Regions from separate parts of the Homo sapiens genome. Here region 1 is linked to region 2. Evidence: fine-mapped expression QTL. Tissue or cell type: whole blood. Region 2 holds a variant in brackets; the other region holds the start of a gene. All regions are shown on one strand. Distances are between the middles of the regions.

The links. PIP is the estimated chance that this variant, and not a neighbour inherited with it, causes the effect.
Region 1: it holds the start of ADIPOR2, and the variant in region 2 is fine-mapped to the expression of ADIPOR2 in whole blood (TOPMed, PIP above 0.99).

The regions. Positions count from the first base shown.
Region 1 is chr12:1,689,742-1,692,241 of GRCh38, forward strand. ADIPOR2 (adiponectin receptor 2) reads left to right here and starts at 1,329. Exons shown (of 8, transcript NM_024551.3): 1 at 1,329-1,450. RefSeq lists enhancers at 832-991, 1,012-1,061, 1,145-1,723 and silencers at 1,222-1,521, 1,542-1,631.
Region 2 is chr12:1,667,486-1,670,240 of GRCh38, forward strand. No RefSeq gene overlaps it. Among named protein-coding and RNA genes, the nearest start is that of MIR3649, 8.5 kb to the left of the region's middle. RefSeq lists an enhancer at 1,629-1,678. The variant A/G (reference allele first, on the strand shown) is at 1,483.

The DNA.
Region 1 (2,500 bases), 22 kb after region 2:
CCTGGGAACATAGAAGTCATTATTATTATGTCTTTCACAAATTATGTAAACTTAAAAAAATTATATTTTCAATGTAAACCACTCCTTGGAGGAAATTAGTTCCTTTAACATTTATTTCCTAATTTTAATTTCTACTAGTTTTATCTCTTTCAAGCTTAAATGAGTGGGCCTTAGTTCTGTATTATTGCCATCTTAATCATGTTCTTTGTGATTTTAGTAGCTTTACTTTTTAAAACTTACATTTCCATAATGAAGACTTCTGTATTTTTGTTTTTTTCGTCATATATCCGACTCCAGCTCCCTCAAGACCTGTCAGCTTTTCCCTGCACCCTTTGTTATCTCTTGCTGTGGTCCAAAGGTAAGGACAGTAAGCCGTGGGCACAGACTTTCCCTAAATCGTATGGATTTCCTTTAGTCAATAACAAGAATTTTGATAGTTAAGGCATTTACGCCTTAAGAATGTGATAAATTCCCCCTCCTACTGAATGTAAAGAACTATTTTTCTACGCAGACTAACTCTTATATTCACTTTTCTTATAGAATAAGTACGTAACCAAATCTGTTCTTGGCTTCTAAGAAGTTAGAACTCAACGTAAAGATGACTTGTGGAAAATTACTTACTCATTCTGGGTAAATGGACGCAGGTATTTAGTGCTTAAGTAGGTTCTGATATACCATTACATTAACATCATTTTAAAAATCGCTCTGAATTATATGTATTTTAAGAGTGACTGGGTTTTAAAAAAAATAGAAGTGGTAGAGCATAAATCATAATCTTTAATAAGGTAATAAAAGGCAAACACTATTGCTCTGGGCAAAACTGGGCTAATGCTTTTGGATTTCTTTCCGCAGTCTTCACAGACGACGCTCAGCATCCTATCAGCCCTTGGCAGAGACACACGATCCAGCCTAAATCCTCAAATTCTGGCTCTTGCCCAAAGTGTGTAGCCAGTATCCATAGAGACTGCGAAAAGCATCCGCGAGCCGGGGCGGCCCCCTCCTCCTCAGCTCCAAATTGCTTCCTTTTTCGGTGGGAGAAAAAACTCCGAGGAGTTGTGTGAGCGCCTAAGGAGCGCACGCTCCTCCGGCCCTCAACACCCAGTATAGTTTTCGCTAAGTTCCTGGCCGAACCACAGCTCCCACGATGCACCCAGGTTTTAGAGCGGTCAGAGGGGCGGCTTCCGGTTTAGGACAGCGCGGCTGCGCACGGCGTGTGGTCTTATTGGCTCGAACCGCCTCGTGCGATGCGCGTCACGGCGACGTGCGGTCGTGGGGGCGGGGAGACGCGGCGGCGGCGGTCGCTGTCGCGGCGGCGAGAGCGCGATTCCAGAAGCGGCATCGCGGCGGCGGCAGCGGCGGCGGCTACACCGGGCTTGGCCCCCTCCCTCCTCCGTTCCCCCCTCCTCCCCCCTCCCCTCAGCGGTGGCTCCCAAGAAGTCCGAGACACGCGGTGAGGCGGCGACGGGCTCCGGGTGAGGGTCTCTGGAGTGTGGGCGCCGTTTCCTGGGCGCAGAGGGAGAGCTTGGGGTCGGGGGGAGGTGAGAGCTGAGGGGCGAATGTCCCTGGCGCGGGCGGGAGAGCGCGCTCTCGGCCCGGCCCGCAACTTGATTCCTAACTCTGACCTGCCGCCCGGCGCGCCTTGGCCTGAGGGTCGGCCGTGTGGGGACCTGGAGCCGCCCTCCTTGCGACCGCTGTCGGAGGAGTCCGGCGCCCGCTGTTCCCCTCGCCTCGCCTTTCGCGGCGGAGGGTCGGAGCCTGCTGCCCTCTGCTCACCTTCGGGTGCAGTTGCTCCAGCTCCCTGCCCGCGGAGAGGATCTGCCCGCCCCTCTTCGTCTCTTGTCTGTTTTTATCACTTCTAGGAATTTGTTTGGTGGAGGCTTGGGATGGGCTCTCTCAGCGCTACTTTCACAGTGACTGGGGTGGGGAAGAGTTCCCTCACCTTTTTCAGGTGGCGCGTCAGGCAGCCTGCTTGGTACCTGGAGTCCTGTTTTCCCAAGCCCCCGTCCGTCAGTGTTCGCTTCTTCTAAAATTACCGATGACAGGGTTATAAATCAGTTTTTAGGGGGCTCGGAGAGAGTTTGGGTTGGAAACTGTTAGCTCTTTTTTCCTCCTGGCTTTTGATCTTGATTTAAGCGTTTGCCTCTGAAATTTTGACAACTTCATAAGATGGTCCAAAAGTGAATTTTGGTAGAAAGATTTAAATGCACAGTTGGGATTTTATGGGGGTACGGTGACTTCATTGCAGGTTGTTGACTTTTTTTTTAAAATAAGATGTTCTTTTAATTTTTTGACTCTGGGTTTCTGAGCCTTGGTTATTGTCCCCCATTTCTGTTCCAAAAGCAGACTTTTTTTTTTTTTATCACCCCTTCCCCTCACCCAGAGAATCCCTTTAAACGCCAAGAAAGCTGTCATAACATTTAGCATTATTTGATCACAGAACTTTTCCAAATGAAATGCTAAAAATTCCTTCAGAAAAAAGCATCCATCTACCCATAGCATT
Region 2 (2,755 bases):
CAAAGTGAGACCCCCATCTCTCCCAAGAAGTAAAAAAAAAATTAGCCAGATATGGTGGTGCATGCCTGTAGTCCCAGATACTTGGGAGGGTGAGGCAGGAAGATCACTTGAGCCTGGGAGGTTGAGGCCGCAGTGAGCCATGATTGCGCCAGTGCACTCCAGCCTGGGCAACAGAGGGAGGTTCCATCTCAAAAAGAAAAAAATATATATCCAGTGTGGCCAAGATATTTTAGGGTGAGGAGAAGGATCAGGAAGCCTCCTGGCCAGACTTTCAGCCTGCAATCCTATCCTCAGTATCTGAGACTACCAAATCCTCAACAAGAAACAAAAACTGAGGGTCCAAACGATGAAAAACAAACCGTAAAGAACGAATTACCCACGTGAATAAACTTTGAAGGCGTTGCGCTAAGGGAAATGAGCTAGTCACAAAGGACGACTACTCTCTCTACGATTCCACTCATATGAGGTACTACGAATAGTCAAATTCAGAGACAGCAGAACGGTGGCCACCAGTGGCTGGCAGGGCAGGATGGGGCGTTAGTGTTCAATGGGGACAGAGTTTCAGTTGGGAAAGAAAGAAAGTTTCTGTAGATGAATGGTGGTGATGGTGGCACAAAAATGTGAGTGCACTTAATGGCACAGAACTGTTCACTTGAGCATTTTAAAATTGTTATTTTTTTAGAGACAGGTTCTTGCTCTGTCACACAGGCTGGAGGGCAGCGGTGTGATCAGAGCTCACTATAGCATTGAACTCCTAGGCTCAAGTGATCTTCCTGCCTCGGCCTCCCAAGGAGCTGGAACTACTTGCCCAGTGTGCCACGATGCCCAGATAATTAAAAAAAAAAAAACCTTTTATTTTTATTTTTATTTTTTTAGAGATGAAGTTGCTATGTTGGCCAAGCTGGTTTCAAACTCCTGGCCTCCAATGATCCTCCCATCTCAGCCTCCCAAAGCTTGGGATTACAGGTGTCAGCCACTGTGCCCAGGCCTACTTAAAAATCGTTAAAATAGTATATGTTATTTTATACATATTTTACCACAATTTTAAAAATAAAAGAGTTACCCTCCCAGTTGACTGACAATCCTGGTATGCCTAAAACCTTTCACTAGACATTTAACCAGTCTTACTACCTCCTCCTGATCTTCAACTAAACCCTCCTCTGTCTTTTTCCTGTAAATTTTCTGCCAACACTGTGAAATACAACTTTGATACACACTTACATATGTTTTAAAAACACCTAATAACAACAACAGAACTAAACTAAAAATAACAGACAACTCCCATGTGCTGGAGGCAGTGAATCTCAGGTTTCCTTCACACAAAGCGGAAATGGCCAGTAAACCCACTTTGTTTCCCCACTGGCCAAGGGAGAAAAGCCGCACTGCAGACACCCACCCGACCCTTCGACCTCCAGACAGACACAGTGCTTTCTAACAAAACAAAAACAAACGAAAAACAACCCAACGGCTTAAAACCACAAA[A/G]GAAACCTTTACCCAATCCAAGCGACCCCTTGCTTCCGTTTGGGCAGATGGCATTTCACCACTTTTTGACCTTTCAACCAGTACCCTTGCTGAATTTCTTTCCAAAGCCAGAGTCATAATACGTGAGAGCGAGCATTTCTCAAGTGCTGGGCTTCAGGGAGGGCCCTGGTCTTTGGACGGTGAACAGAACTGGGGCAGAGGGAGTCCTATCTCGAGGAGATGACGCTGCTGCCCTACAGTAGCCAGCGCTGCTTTTGTAACTCTAGCGATGGCCCAATCTCTGATTGCCCCCACTCTGATCAGCCCTCTTTATTTTAGTCTCGCCTTTGAAATAAGTCTGGGTGACAGCCAAGATGTCCAGTGGCCAAGTCATGCTATGCCACTTCTACCAATGAGATGGTCCCTCCAGCCTCAGCCAGCAGAGACTGTCCTCTGGACCTAGAGCCCCACGAGTGGTGCCACGAGAGCAGCACCTGGGGCCCCACGACCTGGAAGTGTAATTAGTTTCAGACTCAGATAGAGAAATGGAAAGTCCTGATATTGATTGGAAAGCCTAGTTATAATATTCCTAATCTGGCTTGATCCTTGTCTAAAAAGACCTTTTATTTTAGTTGTAGCTTATTTGCCTGGCAAACAGGAGCTCTGGTTTAGGGAGGAGGAATGGGAATGGGGAGAAGTAGGCTATTATAATAATTGAGTACAATTTGAATCCTTTACACATTATGGCTTTTTCGTTTTTTTTTGTTTTTGAGATAGTCTCGCTCTGTCACCCAGGCAGGAGTGTAATGGTGTGATCTTGGCTCACTGCAACCTCCACCTCCTGGGCTCAAGCGATTCTCCTGCCTCAGCCTCCTGATCAGCTGGGACTACAGGCACCTGCCACCATGCCAGGCTATTTTTTTTGTATTTTTAGTAGAGACAGGGTTTCACTATATTGGCCAGGCTGGTCTCAAACTCCTGACCTCATGATCCACCCGTGTCGGCCTCCCAAAGTGCTGGGATTACAGGCGTGAGCCACCGCAATCGGCCCCACATTATGTTTTTAATCACCCTCAAATAGATGCTAATAAGTTGTCAGAAACATCATGAGCTGTTGCTGGGATACAGCCCTTTCACAGCCCAAAGAGCCCCTTGACACATCTTGTTTTTTTCTGGTGAAAAAATAAGAGGACTCATTTTAGTTAGACTCATTCACAAAAACCAGGCGGGCTCATTCTAGAGTCATATGGCCTCCAAAAGCTCAGACCAGAAGCGTACTGTGCTCCTGTCACAC